2 separate regions of the Homo sapiens genome follow, and region 1 is linked to region 2. Evidence: fine-mapped expression QTL. A gene starts in region 2. The other region holds a variant in brackets. All regions are shown on one strand. Distances are between the middles of the regions.

Region 1 (10,845 bases), 270 kb before region 2:
ATACCTATTTGTTATCCTGGATCTGAAGTGGGAAGCAGAGCTCAATACATGTGCTTGGGTTGCAACTCTATAAAGTTTGCTTGAAGCAACCTCTTCCTCCATAGATCTGTACATCATCTTAAAAAATTATTACATACTGGAATAGTGACCCAAGCCAAGAAATTGATACATCTGTAAATGTGCCTACCCACTGATTTTAGAATGCACATAACTATTTCTGTGTGACAGCAATCCATTACTGGGGCTTAGTGGCCACTAGAGTTTCTGCAACTAAGCTCAGATAGTGGAATGATTCTCATTTTAACACTTTTATATGGGATAAGTGCTATATTCTTCCTATTTTACAGCATAGTCAGTGGCCTAGAATCTCAAGGCTATCTGCTTCTTTCAGCAGCTAGAGTATCTAGAGGTGCAGTGCCTTGGGCTGGAAATTGCTATGTAAAATGGTGGCTGGAACACCAAGCTGCTTATCTCTGTGGTGCCCCTGCCAGACCAGGAATAATGTTCAGCAACTGGCAACAGATGAGATGGCTTTTCAGCATTGAAGGACTAAAGGTCTTCACCAAAGTCTGTGTAACCTTAGATATCCACATATGGCTAGAAGAGGAAAACCTGGGCTGGAAATTCTAGATGAGAAGAACAGGGCTTATTCTCACTTCCCATTTGCCCCATGGAGTAATGTTAAGAGGTAATTAGGAAGGGCTAAGGAAGAGTGGAGAGGGGTTAGAAATGAAGTAAGAGGGATCCACCTGCACACTAGGTTTAGTCACATCTCTGAGTCTATTTGAGGGGTTCTTGTGCCTTATTCAAAAGCTGTGAGAGTCTCTCCTTGGGGTGTGATATTAAGAGGTTTAAAAACTGTTTGAAGTCAAACAGAGGAATGAAATAGAAATTAAAGCCAGGACACTGGTCCTTGTTTATTTCCCTGGGATAAATGTGGATACACACAAGTACATAAATATACATAGATATGTATATATGCACTTACACATATATGTACACGCATGTATATGTGTGTACCTACAAATGTGTATATGAAATATATATAAGTATCTGTATTTATATGTATATTTAATTTCATTCCTATAGAATAATGGATTTCAAACTTCTTTTAACTTTGGCATTCTGTGTGCGAAGGGAGGGCCAGTATGTAGTGTGTAGAGGAGTAGTACATTACCTGAAATGGGGCAGCGTATGGCACCCCTCCTACTCTCTGGCTTCCTCATCTCAGTGTGGGGGGCTGAGGCCCCATGACAGAACTTCTATTTTGAAAATCACTGCTCTAAGAACACATCTTCATTCATAATAAAGTTTCCTTAGAAAATAGAGTTTAAAATACATATTCCCGCTAAGCAAGCTTTGGGACAAAAAATTGCCCCATGCTTTGAGGAATATCTGGACTAATCTGGAGAACAAAGAAACCTCACTGGTGCTGGGGTTATGTAAACAATACACCTGTAGTTTTCAAACCTGGACCCACGTGTGCACACAATGACACACTTATATTCCCTGCCTGGCTCCAACCGAATTGACCCTTCTTGAAAGAGTTAAGAAAAAAGGCAGAATAGATGAGGAAGCTGCAGACCATCCAGCAGAGAGGCAATGGACACGCAGATCATTGCAAGTTGGATGTTTAGGTCAAAAGGATGTACTTTTTCTAGTCTAGAGAACCTACTGAGTTTCAAAGAACATTCTGATGAATTTAATGTGTAGGGACAGTGCCTAAAGTCTGTGTAGATTTTTTTCTGCATTTTTTTTGGTTACCATAGGGATAGATTGATTATTTAACAAACTGAAAAGCAAAACAAACAATATTTTGGGAATAAGTACATAGGAAGTTGCATTTTCTACTATGCTTTCCCACTACAATATATTATTTAGCAGTTAGAGAGACGATTAGATAATTTTCCCATGGGAAAATCTAATTTTAGTGGGAGTAGGTCAGACTAACTAGGATCTAAAAGCTATGAGTCTCAAACAAACACTTTCATTTTGGCCCAGAATAAAGGTTAAGTATAGATGGGGGAAAACAAAACAAAAGAAGTAAAGAAAACGACTGCTGTAGTATAGCCAGTTTTCCCACACATCATGGTTCCTCACATTTGACATGTAATAGCTTACTCTATAAGCTCTTCAAAGGAGTCTGGGGTCAGGTTTTTTTGACTTTGGGGGTTACATAAATAATTAGGTTTAATAAAAACCACATTCCAAGTGGCATTCCCTGTACCTGGCTGTAGAGTTCTACCGAGGATTCTCCTTTGAGCTGATGGCCCGTGAGGTAGGTATTGTGCGAAGATTCGATGTAATAGTATGAGAGGGGTAGCTGCAGTTCTTTAATGTTCTCCTGTGACTCATCATTTTTTGAGGCAAAATTTTCTTTATCCATCAGAAACCTAGGTGAAACAAATTTTCTTAAGACTGCATGGGAAAAATGCATCTACTCTTAAAAGATGGGCAAAAGATATTTTAAAAGTTACCTGGCAAACCCTTCAAATGACATTAGTCCCTGATGACACATACTGATGCTAGGCTCGAACTTCTGCAAGGGATTAAAAAAAAAAGTGTTATTTAGGTTAAGGAAACTAAGAGGGGGAAAGAAACCACCACATCATTTTTTAAAGCTGTTCTGTTTTCATCAGGAAACATCTAAACCAAATATTTGAACTAATTTAGTAACGTAGTGGTAAGAAGTAGTTTTTAGTCCAAAAGAAAACATTTATTATATGTGAGTTTATTATACTAAGCATATTTATTTAATAGAAAAAAGAAGAGAATGAGAAAAGAAGGCTGATTTCTATGAAAACAAAGTGTATCAGTTTATCCAGGTGAAAATGGGGATAATAATAGCAGCTACCATAAAGTTGGTGAGAGGTGAACTGAGATGATTCACATAGAGCACTTAGTGCCATGCCTGTATTTAGTAAAATCATAATGAGCACTCAACAGTGTGATAGTAATCTCACAATTTTAGCATTTTCGGTGATCAAATCCAACTGCTGGACAACTAATACACTGATACCCAGTCAGGTGATAAGGGAGGTTGAAACCTAGACTCATTTGTTGCATGGAGCCACACCGCTCCTCTCTGCTGACACCCTGTAGTGTAAACCTTCACCAGCTATTGCTGGTTACTATGATAGCTTCCTAAGCAGTCTCTCTGCATCTGTTCCTTCACCCACACAGTTTACAATGGGGCCAGAGTAACCACTTAAAATTTTGTTTTAGAGACAGGGTCTTACTATATTGCCCAGCCTGGCCTCAAACTTCTGGGCTCAGGCAATCCTTCTGCCTCAGCTTCCTGAGTAGCTGGGACTACAGGTTTGTGCCACCATGCGTGGCTCAGAGTAATCTCATAAAAAATAAATCAGCCAGGCGCGGTGGCTCACGCCTGTAATCCTAGCACTTTGGGAGGCTGAGGTGGGTGGATCACGAGGTCAGGAGTTCGAGACCAGCCTGGCCAACATGGTGAAACCCCATCTCTAGTAAAAATACAAAAATTAGCTGGGCATGGTGCTGTGTGCCTGTAATCCCAGCTACTTGGGAGGCTGAGGCAGGAGAATTGCTTGAACCTGGGAGGCGGAGGTTGCAGTGAACAAAGATCGCGCCACTGCCCTCCAGCCTGGGTGACAGAGCAAGACTCTGTCTCAAAAAAAAAAAAAAAAAAAAAAAAAAATCAAATCATGTTACTCCCCTGCTCAAAAATTTCAGTGGTATCCCATTTCACATGGACTAAAGCCAACCTCCTTATCAAGCTCTAAAAGGCCCGGATGATTGGGCCCTTGCACATCTGTCTGACACCATGCCTGCCATTCTCTGCCTGGCTTGTGCAGCTCACAGTACACCAGCTTTTTGTGGTTCCTCATAAACCCCCAGCTTGCTGCTGTCTTGGTCTTTGACCTTGTGGCTCCCTGTGGGGAATGCTCTTTCCCGAGACCATCAAACTGGTTATTGACTTAGGGCTCAGTCCAAATGCCACCTCTTCCAAGTGGCCTTTGCTTACTCTCCTCAGCCCACCTCCTGTATCATTCCATTCCTTTACTTGACTCAGTTTTTCCCCTACCCCATTATTACCTGAAATTACATCGTATCTTTGTTGTCTGCCTCACCTTCTAGAATGTAAGCTGCATTGAGGACCAGAACTTTTATCTTATTCTCTGCTATATTCCCACCTCCTAAAACTGAGCCAGCATAGTAGGAACTAGTGCATGTTCATTTAATGACTAATGAGGTTGAAAACCTAGACTAAATCTGTTGCATGTTCTAGAATAACAACAAAAAATTATGTACCAACTCCTTATAATAGTTACTGAGTTAGAGAAAGCCTGGGACCTACATTAATATGTAATAATACACTAATAATATGTTAATATTATTACACTAATAATGTTAAAGAAGAACATATAATATGTTAAAGAAAAACATATTATGTAATAATACACTAATAATATGTTAAAGAAGAACACTTACATACTTGTTTTTTGTTTGTTTTTTTGAGACAGGGTTTCGCTCTGTTACCCAGACTGGTGTGCGGTGGTGTGATCTTAGCTCACTGCAACCTCTGTGACTCCTGGGCTCAAGCGATTCTCGTGTCTCAGCCTCCCAGGTAGCTGGGATTATAAGCGTGGACCACCATGCCTGGCTGATTTTTCTTTTTCTTTTTTTTTTTTTTTTTGAGATGGGGTCTTGCTCTGTTGCCGAGGCTGGAATGCAGTGGTGTGATCTCAGCTCACTGCAGTCTCTGCCTCCCGTGTTCCAGTGATTCTCCTGCTCCAC[T/C]CTCCCAGGTAGCTGGGATTACAGGCACGCACCACCACACCTGGCTAATTTTTGTATTTTTAGTGGAGATGCAGTTTCACCATGTTGGCCAGACTGGTCTTGAACTCCTGATCTCAGGTGATCCACCGGCCTCAGCCTCCCAGAGTGCTGGGATTACAGGCATGAACCACCACACCCAGCCCATACTTGGTATTTTGTTAAAAAACATACTTGGTATTTTGTTAAAAAAACAAAACAAAACAAGGTCGGGCGCAGTGGCTCACGCCTGTAATCCCAGCACTTTGGGAGGCCGAGGTGGGCAGATCACGAGGTCAAGAGATTGAGACCATCCTGGCCAACATGGTGAAACCCCATCTCTACTAAAAACACAAAAATTAGCTGGGCGTGGTGGCGCACACCTGTAGTCCCAGCTACTCAGGAGGCTGAGGCAGGAGAATCGTTTGAACCTGGGAGGCGGAGGTTGTAGTGAGCCGAGATCACACCACTGCACTCCAGCCTGGCCACAGAGTAAGACTCTGTCTCAAAAACACCCAAAAAAACAAAAAAAAAAACAAAACTGTATATCTGTCCCAGATTTAAAGGCTTTGGAAAGAAGTATAGAAAGAATAAACATTTAGCAGCAAATTATTAGAATAGCCAGAGGCATCACACACACATGCACACACAAAACAGGCACAAACCTGGATGATGCTGAGGATTTCATCATAAGTGCAGTGTTCTCCTTGGCAATTCACGAGGAAATCGTTGAGCTGAAGTATGCCCACCCCAAAAATGCCCAGAGATGTGCTCTCAATCCCAGTGCCATTTGTCACAATGCTTGCAGCAGCAATGGCATCAGATATCTGCCTCTGGTTGTCCGATAGCTGCTGTTTACTCTTAATGAACAACCCCAAATCCGAGACATTTCTGGTCAACAGATCTGAAACAGAATCACCACAGTACATGGACAAGATAGCCAGCATCTTTTGCAAAGTTCATTTTGGAGATAATGGTGTGGAGTTATTAAAATGGAGAAGCTCTTTACTAATGTACCTAAACAAGCCATCAAAGAAGTGTTTATTTCTGGCTTCACATAGTGATAGGAATAAAAAACAAATCAATGAATAAATAAAGGCTGAGCATGGTGGCTCATGACTGTAATCCTAGCACTTTGGGAGGCTGAGGCAGGTGGACCACCTGAGGTCTGGAGCTCAAGACCAGCCTGGCCAACATGGTGAATCCCCGTCTCTACTAGAAATACAAAAATTAGCCAGGCATGGTGGTGTGCACCTGTAGTCCCAGCCACTCGGGAGGCTGAGGCATAAGAGTTGCTTGAACCCAGGAGGCGGCGGTTGCAGTGAGCCAAGATTACGCCACTGCACTCTAGCCTGGGCAACAGAGTGAGAGTCTGTCTCAAAAAAAAAAAAAAAAAGGAAAAGAAGACAGAGCTAGGTTGATGATCTTGATATCCCATGTGGTATTACATGGCAACTAAATGTAGGTTCAGCTGGGGACTTAGGTGAAATTCAGGCTTTGGTTTTAGGGAGTAACTACTTGCACATTTTTGTTTGTAGAGATTGAAGATATACCCTTAAAATTACAGTTTTACTGTTTAATATAAGCATTTGTTTACAGATTTTTATGTGAATATAAATTTTTCAACTCATTTGGGTAAATACCAAGTACTGTAATTGCTGGTCACATGGAAGGAATATGTTTAGCTTAGTAAGAAACTGCCACACTGTCTTCCAAAGTGGTTGTACCAGTTTACATTCCCACCTGCAATGTTCCAATTGCTTCACATTCGCACCAACTTTGGTATGGCCATTTTAATTTTAGCCACTTTGGAAGACAGTCTGGCAGTTTCTTATGGAGCTAAACATAGGCTTACCATATGATCCAGCAATTGCACTCTTAGGTATTTACCCAAATGATGGAAAAACTTATGCCCACACAAAAACCTGAATACAAATGTTTATAGCAGCTTTATTCATAATTGCTAAAACTTGGAAGCAACCAAGATATACTTCAGTAGGTGAATGGATAAACAAACTGTAGTACCTCCGCAAAATGGAATGTTACCCAGGGTAAAAAGAAATGGGCTACCAAGCTGCAAAAAGCCACGGAGGAAGGAAACTTAAATGCATATTGCTAAGTGAAAGACGCCAGTCTGAAAATGCTATGTACTGTGTGATTCCAACTATATGACATTCTGGAAAAGGCAAAACTATGGAGATAATAAAAAGAGCAGTGGCTGCCAGGGATTTGGAGGGAGGTCGCGGGGGGGATGGAAAAATGAAGCATAAGGAACTTTCAGGGCAGTGAAACTGTCCTGTATGATACTGTAAAGGTGGATACATGTCATTACACATTTGTCAAAACCCATAGAATGCACAACACAAACAGTGAATCCTAACGTTAACTATGGACTTCAGTTCATCATAATATATCAATATTAACTCAATTGTAACAAATGTACTACACTAATGCCAGATATTACTAACAGAAGAAAGTCTGTGTGGGAGAGTAGAAGAGAGTATATTGGAACTCTGTACTTTCCACTCATTTTTCCATAAACCTAAAATTGCTCTAAAAATAAAGTCTAAGCTGGGCATGGAGGCTCATGCCTAAGATCCCTGCACTTTGGGAAGCTGAGGCAGGAGGATTGCTTGAGGCTAGGAGTTTGAGAGCAGCCTGGTCAACAGAGCAAGACCCTGTCTCTACAAAAAATTACATTATTTTAAAATAATAATATTTTAAAATAAAACAAAAATAAAAAATACATGAAAATCATGATAAATAATAAAATAATAAAATATAATAGAACAAAAAATAAAGTCCAATAATTTTTGAAAAATGTAACTACTTGACTAATCCATGGTTATGGAGATTTTATGACTAAAGTTGAACAATACTTAATAGTCTTAGCTCAAGGACAACATAAACTTATAAATAATTATGAAGCAACTGCATAAAAGAGGAAAGTTTTTTGTTTTGCTATTTGTGTTTATAGTTTCCAGGAAGAACAGAGGAGGAAAATGATAGGCTGGAAATGCATAAGTGGTTAGAAAATGCATGGGTGGTGATAGTAATGGTGGTGGTGGTGAGTGAGATAGAAGAATGAGACATTCTTGTTTATACAGTAGGAAATATATCCTGGACAATCATTCAGACAGAAGTACCCTGTGGAAGGCGCTAAAGACTCTCCTTGTCAAAGGGCAGGAGACTACTGCCCTGTGATTGAACACACAACTGTCTGTAGGTAGGGAAGAGACTGGGGGTTCTCCACTGTGACACACACCACATACCTAGCAGACATTTGGAAATGGTCAGTGATATGGTTTGGCTGTGTCCCCACCCAAATTTCATCTTGAATTGTAGCTCCCACAATTCCATGTTGTGGAAGGGACCTGGTGGGAGGTAGTTGAATCATGGGGGCAGGTCTTTCCCATGTGAAAATGTTCTCATGATAGTGAATAAGTCTCATGAGATCTGATGGTTTTATAAAGGGGAGTTTTTCCTGCACAAGTTCTCTTGTCTGCTGCCATGTGAGACACGCCTTTCATCTTCTTCCATGATTGTAAGGCCTCCCCAGCCAGGTGGAACTGTGAGCCCCTTAAACCTCTTTTTCCTTATAAATTACCCAGTCTTGGGTATGTCTTCATCAGCAGCATGAAAATGGACTAATATAGTCGGGAAAGGGTTTTTGGTTGTCAGAATGACTGGAAGGCTTTATTGGTTAAATAAATACATGGGCAGAACCACACAATGATGAATTTCTTTGCTCAAAATGCCAGTAGCACCTGCTCCCTCAACACCAGATGACACCTTAAAATAATTCTCTAAGTGTTGGCCAGGTGAGGTGGCTCATGCCTGTAAACTCAGCACTTTGGGAGGCTGAGGTGGCAGATCACGAGGTCAGGAGATCGAGACCATTCTGGCTAACATGGTGAAACCCTTGTCTCTATTAAAAATACAAAAAATTAGCCAGGCATGGTGGCACATGCCAGTAGTCCCAGCTACTCAGGAGGCTGAGGCAGGAGAATCAATTGAACCCGGGAGGTGGAGGTAGCAGTGAGCTGAGATTGCACCACTGCACTCCAGCCTGGGCTACAGAGTGAGACTGCATCTCAAAAAAAAAAAAAAAATTCTCTTAAGTCTTTCCCTACACAGCAGTAATAGCACACTATGTGGGACAGGCTCAGAGTTTGTGTGACTGGACCTCTGACCTTAAGTTTTAGACAGATTGATCCCAAAGGGAAATCCTAAAATGTTCAACAAACCTAGGTCAGGCTGAAGATCGCTGGTGTTTTCATCAATTGTCAGGTTGGTGTAGAGTGGGGCTGACTCGGAGCCAGATCGGTTGCAGGGCACTGCATAGACATCAAACAGATCCTTCAGGTCCTTGCGGCTCCTGACACTGAATGAGGAATGGAAAACACCTCTCATTGAGTATCTTTATAGAAATGGGGGGGCCTGAGAAAGAATAAGAAGGAAACATAAGACTGTACCTGAATGATTTGAACAGCTCAACAAATTCAACAAAACTCATGTTGCTATCTGAAACCATGAAGCTCTGAAATCCCTTCATGCCGCCTTTGATCCGCCCGTGCCAGCTACTACTGCTCCAAGCACTGCAACAAAGACAAGGCCTTCATGGGCACAAGGGCAGGCCACTGTTGTGATTCTGTCCCACCAGACTTGCTCCAATTAGCAATATGAGCAAAAGGATGAGTGCAAGTTATTTAAGATTGAAGCTATTTTCCAGTACTCTCTTTTCACATCTCTTAACCTATATTGTATCAGAGGAAATAAAACATGTTCTATGTGAAAAAGAAAACATGTTTCTAGTCTATTTAATAAGGGCCCAGGGCTGAGGTTAATATTCCTCTATTAATCAAATCAGTTCTTTGAAATTGCAGATCAATGGGCAAAATAACTCAGTGTTTCTGAAGATGTCTATTAAAAAGAGCCCCAAATTACTCACTCTTAATCTATGGGAAATAATGCACGTTCTTTTCTATATTCTAAGTTATAGAATTACATTTAAGAAGAAACCTTTGAGTGTATTGTCTGATTCCTTTCTTAACCAGTCCTTAGATGAAAACAGAGAAGAGCTTTTAAATATTAATGAAAAATGTGAACCGGAAAAATGTTAAGAATGGAAAGGGCTGGGTGCGGTGGCTCATGCTTATAATCTCAGCACTTTGGAAGGCTGAGGTGGGAAGATTGCTTGACCCCAGGTGTTCGAAACCAGCCTGGCCAACATAGTGAGGCACTGTCTCTAATTTTAGAAAATTTAAAAAAGAATGGAAAAAAGCCAGCTTTGACTAGGATTATATTTGCACCTTCCAAGGCTGCATCTATTCAATGTAGAAATATCAGTCAACTCAGAACAGACTTACTGTTTCACAACATTTTTTATTTTCTATACTGATTTCCTGACACAATGGTATGAGAGATGTTTTGATTATGGTTTGTAGTCAAATTAATGAACAGGATCTATTTTTTAAATTATACTTTAAGTTCTAGGGTACATGTGCACAATGTACAGGTTTGTTACATATGTATACATGTGCCATGTTGGTATGCTGCACCCATTAACTCGTCCTTTACATTAGGTATATCTCCTAATGCTATCCCTCCCTCCTCCCTCCACCCCACAACAGGCCCTGGTGTGTGATATTCCCCGCCCTGTGTCCAAGTGTTCTCATTGTTCAATTCCTACCTATGAGTGAGAACACGCGGTGTTTGGTTTTCTGTCCTTGCGATAGTTTGCTGAGAATGATGGTTTCCAGCTTCATCTATGTCCCCACAAAGGACATGAAGCTCATCCTTTTTATGGCTGCATAGTATTCCAATGGTGTCTATGTGTCACATTTTCTTAATCCAGTCTATCATTGATGGACATTTGGGTTGGTTCCAAGTCTTTGCTATTGTGAATAGTGCCGCAATAAACATACGTGTACATGTGTCTTTATAGCAGCATGATTTATAATCCTTTGGGTATATGCCCAGTAATGGGATGGCTGGGTCAAATGGTATTTCTAGTTCTAGAGGACCTGTTTTTTTTTGTCTTGGATTTTAAAAGTT
Region 2 (10,845 bases):
AACAGGGCGCTGGGGCCAGCGGTCTGTGGTGAGCGAGGCGGCTGCAGGAACAGAGGTGGGAGCGAGAGGGAGGCCAGCCCAGGAACTGCTCCCACGGCTTCGGGCTGTCCAGATGCAGTCTAGGAGATGGCAACAGTGAAAACTTACGAGTATTTCAATAACCAGTGTTCTGGGGAAGAAAAAAACCAACTACACTGCCCTCTTTCTCACCAATTCCAACATTGCATTTTCCCCACGTACAGTCACATACCATTCAGTGGCTGATAGTGTCAGACTCAACAGCCAGAAATGCCTGCCTTTGGGAGTAGTGTGGGTGACAGTTAAGAGTGCCAGAATGCTTGGACTCACATCCCGGATCTCCTGCATACTAGCTGTGTGACCTTGGGTAAGTTACTTAACCTCTCAGTGCCTCAGTTTCCTCATCTGTGATATGCAGATAATAAAAGTACCTACCTCAGAAAGTGGGTTGTGGGGATTAAACAAGTTAGTACCTATAAATTGCTTAGAACAATACCTAGTACGAAGCTCTTACTAAATGCTAGCTATATTATCATTCTCTTATTTTGATAGCTTTCTTCTCACTCCTGACTGCTTTCTCTTTATTCTTCCATGCTGTATTAGTTTCCTACAGCTGCTGCAACAAATGACCACAAACTTAGTAGTTTAAATAATACCAATGTGCCACCCTACAGTTCTGGAGGTCAGAAGTCTAAAATGGGTTAGTAGGGCTACATTCCTTCTGGAGGCTCTAGGAAAGAACTCATTTTCTCTCCTTTTCCAGCTTCTAGAGGCTTGGCTCATGACCCCTTGCTCACATCACTCCTGTCTCCTTCTTCTAAGAACACTCGAGATTAGACTGAGCCCACCCAGATCATCCAGGATCATCTCAAGAGCTTTAATTTAATCACATCTGTAAAAGTCCCTTTTGTCACGTAAAGTAACATATTCACAGGTTCCAGGCATTCAGACTTGGACATCTTTGGTAGATCATGATCTAGCCTACCATCTCCACCTCCCCAAAACCTAACACTGCAGACTGGGAAGACTTGAGGAGCCCTGGGGGAAGAAACAGTAATATTAGTAGTTAACTTTGAGCACTCAGGATGTGTCTGTCTCTATGCAAAGTGCTTTAGGTGAACCATCTCACTTTGGCCTCAAAGCAACCCTGTACAATTACTATTGCTATTTTACGCAAAGGTCAGTTGCTCATCCAAGGTTGTACTAGGTAAACCCCAGGGAAATTTGATTCTAGAGAATCTTGTATTTACGAATAGAGTGTCCAGGCTCTATACCTTAAGCCATGATAACTGGATTCAGGGAGTCAGGTGGGGAAAGATCATTAGGGGCCTCAGAGACTGTGCCGCAAGAGGTATACATGCCCCCTGGCTGCAAAGAGACAGGGGGTCCTGCAGAGGCCACGCTAAACTACACACAAAAGGTCAAATGTCCAGAACATCTCCTCCTACTCAAAGGAGAAACCTTGGGGTTACTCAATAATTTCTTCAAAGGCAGGTTTGGACCAAAATCTAAGAAGAGATCACTGAGGCTTGCCACTACTTGAGGAGGAGAAATGAAATGTCCATTCTTGCCCCCAGACCAGCCTTGCAGTTCCAGTCGAACTCCCACAAGAAAAGAGGAATTCAATTTCCCTAGAAAGACTTCCGACTGAGTCAGATTGATGCAGACCCTCCAAAAACACGCCAGGAGGGCTTACAATCCTGGTAGTCCACCAAATGGCCCTCGCCTGTAACAGTTGATCTATACTAGGACCAAACCACCGGCCACCCTCCACCCCATAACAGTTATGAATATGTAAGCCCCCACATGCCAAAGATTTCAACATGAGCCCAATGGTTTCACCAGTACCCACCTCTTTTCCTACCAGTTCTTACACAGTGAATGCTCAAAAACAAGTGTGGCTGACACAGGGTGGAAAGGGGCAAGCTAAACAATTGCTAAGCACGTCTATTACGGTGGTTGAACTATCCATGGCATTTCAAAACCTCAACTGCTAAACAATTTAGCCAGATCACTATCTGAAACTTTCTAATGAGCTGAGTTAAAGCTATTAGGTTTCACCTAACCAAAAAAAAAAAAAAAAAAAAAAAAAGGATGGTTATTTGTTTTGGGTCATGAGCCCAGAGGTTAATGTAGGATAGCACAGTGATCAAGAGAACAGACTCTGGAGACAGCCCACTTTGACTGGCTCCTGACACTGGCACTTCCTTGCTGTGACTTTATGCAAATCACTTGACCTTTCGTTGCTTCAGTTTTCCCATCTTCAAAATGGGCATAATCATGGAAGTCCACACTCCCTAATCCAAATTCTGAGCAGCCAGCCAACTGTGATTCAGAAGCTTTATGGATTTTGTAATGGTAAAAATGCATATGCCATATCTTACATAACACTTTCAATGGTATCTGCAGCAAATAAAATATGCCCATAATTTCTGAAGTAAAAATATATGTGTAGTTCTCACCAAGTGAGAAAAATAAAGACTGTCATAACCTCACGTCACTTCAGACCAAGTTTTGTAGCCAAATTTATGAAAATCACAGTTTTTAGAGCTTTTTTGATTTTGGAAATACAGCTAAAGGATAAGATCTCTCACATTGACTGAGTAATATATAAAAATTAAATGCGTTAATTGATAAAAGTTCTTGGAGTGGTGCCTGGCATGTAGTAAGCACCATAGTGTTACCAACAACAACTTCTATTATTTTCATGTAAAATTTGGAAACTTTAAAGTTATGACTAAATTTCATTTGGAAACCAGTACACTTTGGAGATTAATAGGAATTACCCCTTTGAAACAATCCTCTAGGGAAGGATTTTCTGAGATGATGAAAATGTTCTATATCTGCACTGTCCAATACAGTAGCCACTAGCTGCATGTAGCTATCAAGCACTTGAAATATGGGTGGTTAATTTCATTTAACTAATTTCAATTCAAATGTAAATAGCCATATGTGGCTAGTGACTACCATGTTGGACAATGTAGCCTCCGAGGGCTTGGTTCCCAATCTGGCCCACGAAAATCTATTTAAGCCATAACACAGATGAATTATAGCCTCGGTAAAAACCCTGCATTCTGCATCCAGGGAGCAGAGAGGAACACATGATGCTAGAGAGAGTTCTGCCCTTCTTTGTAGGCCACATGGTTGGCCTATAACAAAATGCATCTTTGATATCGTCTTCCTCTCTTTCTCCATTCCCTACTCCTCCATCTCCAACTCTCCTCTTTGGGCCTTACATAACTAAATCACATGCTTCCCTAAAACCCTATCAGAACCTTCCACCCCTCTTCCAGAAGCACCATGTTTCCTAATCACCTGTCTTCCCTCGCCTCAACCAAACCCCTACTTGCTCAATGCCACAGATCTCAACTGAACGTTGGGAGGAAAGCAACTTCAGCAAACAAATTCACACTCTTAGCTGCTTCTACTGTTTTTGGCTTTTCCTCTGCTTCTCCTTCTGAACCCAGAAGCTCTGTTTTATTGTTCTTCCACCGCAGAAGTAGTTCCGGCAGAGAGAGAAGGCATTAAGACTAAAGCAACTGTCCTATATAGGCGCCTGTCAGCCAGGTGTGTGGAACACACACGCGCGCGCACACACACACACACACACGTGCAGCAAGCCTCACTCTGTGCAAATCCCTCCTCTTGCCCAGGCATGGGAAACGTCCCCTGCTGTCTACTTTAGAAAACTCTTCCACCATGCACAGTATTTTTTCAATCTTCTTTTATTCATTTAGAAAGTTACAGGTAACAAATTGCACATCAAACAGTTTTTTTAAAGTATACAACAAAAGCCCAGAGAAGAATGTGACTAAGAATGGTTGTAAATAGAAAAACAAAACCAACCGCCTTCATTGGAATCTAGCTTCTAACCCACTGGAGTATGGAATTTTTAATGACAGGTCAAACTTGGACCACATCCCAGGAGTTTATGTTACTAAGAGGACTGGAAGAATGTCCCTCCAGTTCAATCTGGCTTCTTACCTGGTAAGACATGGCTCCTGGGTATAAAGGGAATTTCCCCCATGGGGCTGTAAATAAAGGATAGTGTTAATGGTAAACATTATACATTCCTCTAGCTCCTTTCAATTATATTATCTCCTTCTCCAAAGTAGATATTTATGTTGTAAAACCAAAGTCTTAAGATTTAATACTGGCCCACAATTATCTCTAGAGTCTTCTAGGTGCAAGCATTTTGCCATGAAAGCCACAGCAAATGCCTTCAGTAGGGAAAATGAGACATCTACATAAATAACTCCCAGAAGGTAGAGAGCAGAAAGGGCCCTGGAGAAAAAATGCTGCAGAAATCAGAGCAGGGGGAGGTTGGCTGTTTCAGGAAAAGCCTCACACCACCAGCAAAACACAGTTTGAAGGATGGTTAGACTTTAGAGTGGTGGATGTGGGGGAAGATGTGCCATCAGATGGTCTAGATGACAACACCATCAGACATTCTTCAGAAAAGTATTTATGAAGACATCGATGCATACAATAACCTAGAGATAGTCCACCTCTCTCCTCAATGACAACTGGGCACCTGTACAAGCACCTATGGGGTCACCTGCTTCCACCTCCCAAGTCAGGCTCTCAAAAATTCTCCCTAGTGGGGTCAAGCATTCTTGGCCTCAGTAGTGCCCATTCTGTGGCAGCGGCCCTGCCCTACCTCTACGGGGGGTATAAGAAACATGAAAACATACCAATCCTGCAGAGATCTAAAAGACCTACGGGCAAATTTTGCATAATGCAACTGAAATTATGACCTTCGTGCAAATAAAACTTTTCGAAGACGTGAATCCTACTTAACAGGTATTCAGGGAACTCACTATTTAAAATGACACTGATTAATCACTAAATGAGTCTTACACTGAATAATTGGTTAAGTCGGCTGAACTCAGTGTCTGATGGCTTAAATACAGAGCGAGGGGCGAAAGCTTCCACAAATTTACGCTGTGCACCTAACATTCGCCACGACAGAAGACTTCTTGCTCTAGTGTATTTATTACTGTAGCATTAAAGGACTTGAAGGCAAAGCTAGCTATTCTAGTTATCAGTTAGAGCGGGACCTGGTCCAATATTGTATTTTCTAGGACTTGATGTACACAAATCTCTCCAGGAACAATCTCTTGAGCACTTTCCTTGAAATACCGCTGCTAAGTACCGCCACAAAAAGAGCTTACGTTTTTCTTTGCACTGGCCACCTCCACACCGTATTCACAACACGAAGGGGCGACCTGAGGCAGGCGTCTGGAGTGAAGGCACTGGCAGGGTGTCCTTTAGCCCCTGCGAGGGCGGCCTGCATGCCCTGGAGGACCGCCCGCCTCGGGTCCCCCGGGAGCGCGAGGACACTTTTCCGCCAGGTACGCGGAGTCGGGCTGCTCCCTTAGGCGGGTCGACTGCCTTGGGAGAGAACCAGCCCATCCTTCCCTTTCTCCAGTCCTCAGGAACCGAGCTACAGAGTCGCTTCCTCACCTCTTGGCTCCTGGCGAGTCTCGCCGGCGTCCCCAAGCGCAGCGTCCCTCTGGGACCAGCCGTCCGCGCGCCTGTCGCTAGCGGCGTCGGGTGTCCCCGCTACTGTGTGTCAGCTGCAGAGCCGATGCCCAGGAACGCGCAGGAGCCAGGCAAGTGCCCGAGAGGCAGAGCCCGGGAGGCAGAGCCCGGGAGGTAGAGCCCGGGCGCGCCGCCGCTGCCCCTCCCGCCGCGCGAGCCCGCCGCCCGCCGCGTTGCCCACGTTGCCCAGCGTTACCGTGTGGACCCGCGCCGTTCACAGTCCGCTCCCGCCGAGATGTGCGCGCTGCCCGGACAGCGGCGGCTGCGCGGGCGGCAGCGGGGCCCCCGCCCTGGGCCGGGCTTTCCCAGAACTCGCCCGCCCCGGGTGAGAGGCCGCTAGCGCCACCGCGGGCGGCCGGGCGGGGGAGCGGCCTGTGCCGGGCCCGCCCCCGGCTCCTGCCGCGCGGGGAAGGCGGGCGCGGAGCGAGGACCCGGCCGCCTCCCCCGGAGCTGGCTGCTGGCGGCGCGACCCCTTCCCAGACCCCTGGCCCTGACCCCTAGGAGCCATCCTTTCTGGCGGGAGCCAGAGAGAGCGCTCCTGGGGCGCCCGGCTCCGGGAAGGGCGGGAACTCTGCACACCTCAGGCGGCGGGAATTTACTCTCACACTACCCCAGGGAACCACCCCTGGTTGACAGATATGGAAACTGAGGTTCACGGCAGATAAAGGACACGATCAAGGTCTCTGTAGTAGATGGCAGCACCAAGTCTCGAATCTGTTCTGTCACTCGTTCATTTAATACATATTCATTGAGCCCCATCAATGTGCCCAGCGTTGTGCCAGGCTCCGGAAATACTCCTTTTGCTGGTAATGGTGGCCATCCAGGACTGCGGACTCCAAATCCAGTACTCTTTCATTGCTCAAGCAAACCTGAAGATCTTCACAACTAGAAACTACAGGCTTTGCACAGAACTTCCTTAGCCGCTGGAGCGGCTTTTATGAGTCTTAGGAGAGCCAAGGACCTGGAAAAAAAAATCAAATCATCATCCTCCTCCCTTTCGCCTAAACCTGTGCCTCCTCCCTCTACCTGTTCTAATGGAAGACCGTTCCCTAGGCCTGACCTCTTCTCCTACATCCGATCAGGACCCATTCCTGTGGCCCATATCGCCTCCCACTGTCCTCTCCCTTGGACCAAATCAATCCTTCAAACCACCGCTGTATTATTCTTCCTTTTTTACAACTTTAATCTATGCAGAAAACTTCACTGGCTCCCTATTGCCCTCCAAACTAACTCTCCATGGCTGTGTAACCCAGCATGCCCTGGCTAATAAGGATCACCCAACAGAATGTCTCTCCCACTCTAGCTCTGTACCTGAACTTAAGCTGAGCCTTCTACCTGGAGCATCTCCTCCCACACACTTTCCTCCTGCTCATGTTTGACCCTTTCTTTCGGGTCCCTCTTAAAAGTGATCTCTCCTTCTTGGAGGCTCCAGAACACAGGAGAGGTTGGAGCAAGAAAGCACAGGAGGCCCAAAGAATCCTGCTGTTAAGAAAAATCTGCCAGTCTGGTCCTTAAACTGTCTTGCTGTTTTCTCACCACTAGGACTTTAATGAAAACTAACATGATTGCCTCCCTGGAGAGCTGATTTCAGAAAGGTCTCTGCAGAGGGCTCTAAAGAAATTCTTTGTTCCTTAAGATCTTGGCATTTTAGCACTAGGACAGTGAGAAGTGGTAATTTACTCAATCCCTGAGGCTATGTTATCCTGAACAAGTAAATAAAGGGCTGAGGAAAGAGGTAGCATCACTGACAATAAACAAGGTAGGCTATTTATTTAATATACAGTATTATATTATGGTTTTATAATTCATTTAATGATCAAATAATATCAAACTTCATCCATCACCTGGCACCCCCAAAGACTTTTTTTTTTTAATTTGGCACATGGGAATAGATAGCTACAAACTGGTAGATGCACAAGCAGTTAACATTGAATCCTCCAAATGAGTCATTGCATGATTAGTAAGCAAGGCAAATCTAGGTCCGTTGAGCAGGAAAGTTATCCAAGTGTGATAATCACTGTGGCCCCATCCCTAGAAAGGGGCGCCTTCCTCAAATCTTTGCAAAGAGAGCAGGTCCAGATCAGTGTCCTTTGCTCGCCCCATGGCTCCCTCTCTAAACGAGATTGGAGGGAAGTCGTGTCCCCGAGGCTGCCTCACCACATTGGAATGTCTGAGCTAACAGTACTTCCAGAGTGTTCATTGCTCCTCTGAACAGCACTGCCCAGACTTTCTGGAGATTTTAATTCACTCCCCAACCTCGCCAACAGTTGCACACAAGGTGCCTTTTTTACACCCTGCTCTCTGTTCAGTGAAACACACAGACCATCTCAGGGGAACAATGGCTCCATTCAAGACTTTTTCAGAAGTGCACCATATAACCTCCACTCTGTGGGCTGCTGCCAGCCATTATCTAGAGGAAGAAAGACTGTCAGATAAAGCGCCTGAGAATTGGGAAAGCACTGGATAATTTCCATGGAAAATTCAGCTTCAGTAAACTAAGTTATGCATCTCTTTATACAAGACCATTCTGCATAGACAACAACAACAGCCCCAAGAAACAATCCTGTGGAGACTTTATTTCAGTAAAGTGCATCTATGTTTGAAATTTCAGAAGAAAACACACATGTCTTTTGAGCTTATTACATTACATACTGGTCTCCAGTCAATGGAAATTGATTTAAATACATGATAAACATAGAGACTAGGGAATTTAAGTAGTAAAATTATTTTAAGAAACGGAACCATCTTCCCTCTTTCTTTCTGCCTCCCCTATCCTGTAATTTTCAGAAAGGAGGTGGGGGCAGTGGTCTCTGACTTCATGGTGGTGGTTGCCAACAAGAGGCCCCACACCCTCTACTGCACATATTACAGAAGAAGGATTGGCGCTTTGCCACACTCAACAAGCCAGCCATCAGTTAACCCGTTCATAAACAAACCATTAGTTTGGGAACTGAGTAGTCAGTGTGGGCACCATTGACTAATGCATTGATCTTTGTCAAACAGCTGCTGATCGTCAAACAGAGGAATTTGCCAACAGACATCTGGGTAGCACAAAGGCCAAGGAAGGACTGAAGGAACAAGGCAGCCCTCAGCTTTTGCAGTTGCCATTTTCTCCCTTTCAAAGTCACTGCATCAAACTGTACCGGGCTTACTAGCTGTCTGCAAATAGACTAGCAAGTTCAGATGGTGAGCAGAGAGCCAAAAACACACTTCCTAGAGTTGTCTTGTATGTGAGGTTAGATGTACTAAGGCAGTTTGAGGTTGATGAAAAACAACCAGCTTGTTAAAGCTGTAGGTATCTCTACCTGTGTGACATGGTTAGGAGTGAGGGTCCCCAGGGAACAGTAAGCAAAGCAGGGAAAGATGATCTTAAACATCCTCTCTCAGCGCAGCCGGTGTTAGGGGAACAGAATTTGGTGTGGGACCACTTGAGTTGGATGCTCAGATCCACCCCCAAGTTGTGAGCCCTCGGACAGGTTACTTATCTCACTGTGCCTCATTTTCCTCTAGATAAATTGTACCTACCTGATATGGTTTGGCTGTGTCCCCACCCAAATCTCAAATTGTAGTTCCCATAATTCCCCCGTTGTTGGAGGGACCCAGTGAGAGGTAATTGAATCGTGAGGATGGGCCTTTCCCATGCTGTTCTCATGACAGTGAATAAGTCTCACGAGATCTGATGGTTTTATAAAGGGGAGTTTTCCTGCACATGCTCTTTCTGTCTTGCCTGCTGCCATGTAAGCTGTGACTTTGTTCCTCCTTGCCTTCTGCCATGATTGTGAGGCCTCCCTAGCCAAGTGGAACTGTGATTCCATTAAATCTCTTTTTCTTTATAAATTACCCAGTCTTGGGTATGCTTTATGAGCAGCGTGAGAACAGACTAATACAGTACCCCTCAGCGTAATTGTGAGGATTAAATGAGCCAGTGTATATGAAAACACTTAGAACGTATAAAGGTTTATTACTTAAATAAATAAAACTCAGATTTTTATTTTCATTTAGACTTATGGTATTTAAAGGCCATAAACCCCTTTGAATATTCCAAAATCTTGTCAATCTTTTGACAGAACATTTTTTTCTTCTTGAAACATTCAGGAATCTCATTGTAATACCTGGTTCAGAGTTGTTGTCAGCAAAAGTTGGGACCAGCTCAAATTGTTTCAAGGAGCCATAATGAAAAATTATAAAAGCACAATTTTTTAAAAAAAGTTTTAGCAACACTGGAATTCCAAAGCATAGACATTAGAAACTTCTTGTTTTTCTTCTCGAGGTAGGGTCTTGCTCTGTCACCCAGGCTAGAGTGCAGTAGTGTGATCATAGCTCACTGTAACCTAGAACTCCTGGGCTCAAGTGATCCTCCCTCCTCAGCCTCCTGAGTAGCTAGGACCACAGGCAAGCACAACCATGCCCAGCTAATTTAAAAAAAAATTGTTTTGTAGAGATGATGTCTTGCTATGTTGCCCAGGCTGGTCTTGAACTCCGGCCTCAGGTGTGGAGACTTCTCTAGATGTAGTTTTTAAGGTTTTATGTTGTTCTTAGTGGCCAAAATGCACAGTTTAAAGAAACAGGAGAGAATACAGAATGTATTTTTCAAAAGTAGATGCAGCTATATTTCCAGTCCCACATCCTCTTCTAGAACCTTGCCACTGATATCAGGTGAAGTCTAATTCCCCTTCTCTTGAATATGGGCAGCCCCTTAACTAATAGAATGAGGTAGAAGTGATGCTTTGTGGCTAGAGTACCTATGTCATGGAAGTTGAGACAGCTTTTGTTTGCCTATCTTGCTCCAGAACTCTCACCCAAGAACCCAGATGCCATGTTGTAAGGAAGCCCAGACCACTTGGAGAGGCATGTATGATCCCAGCTGACAGCCAGCATCAACCTTGAACATGTGGGTGAATGTGCCTCCAAGGGATTCCAGTCACTAACCTTCAAGCCATTCCAGCAATAGTAAGTAGAGCAGATCAAAGCTATCCCTGCCATGCCCTGCCCAAATTGCTGGTTTTTGAGCCAAATAAATGGTCAGTCTTTTAGGCCATAAGTCTTGGGATAGTTCCTTACATAACTTTCATAACTGGAACAATAGGAACGAATGTTGGGAGGTAGGTAGAGTTAGTTGAAGCTCGTGAAAGTTTTCTTCTGCTTGCCTGTATTTTCACAGTGGAATGGTAAACAAAGTCAGCTGGACGTGGTGGCTCACGCCTGTAATCCCAGCACTTTGGGAGGCCGAGGTGGGCAGATCACGAGGTCAGGAGATCCAGACCATCCTGGCTAACACAGTGA

Alleles and levels. Positions count from the first base shown, and alleles are read on the strand shown. Sizes are in standard deviations (SD) of each study's normalised expression.
With allele C in place of T in region 1, the expression in pancreas of the gene that starts at base 5,812 in region 2 is higher (large effect, 1.1 SD a copy in GTEx).

The links. PIP is the estimated chance that this variant, and not a neighbour inherited with it, causes the effect.
Region 1: its variant is fine-mapped to the expression of PLCE1 in pancreas (GTEx, PIP above 0.99).

What each region holds. Positions count from the first base shown.
Region 1 is chr10:94,257,341-94,268,185 of GRCh38, reverse strand. PLCE1 (phospholipase C epsilon 1) reads right to left here. Exons shown (of 33, transcript NM_016341.4): 12 at 9,264-9,386; 13 at 9,036-9,172; 14 at 5,454-5,692; 15 at 2,478-2,539; 16 at 2,228-2,393. Among named protein-coding and RNA genes, the nearest start is that of PLCE1-AS1, 24 kb to the left of the region's middle. The variant T/C (reference allele first, on the strand shown) is at 4,774.
Region 2 is chr10:93,988,898-93,999,742 of GRCh38, reverse strand. PLCE1 (phospholipase C epsilon 1) reads right to left here and starts at 5,812. Exons shown (of 33, transcript NM_016341.4): 1 at 5,485-5,812. LOC105378438 (a long non-coding RNA gene) reads right to left here. Exons shown (of 4, transcript XR_946215.2): 4 at 6,024-6,523. RefSeq lists a silencer at 5,709-5,998.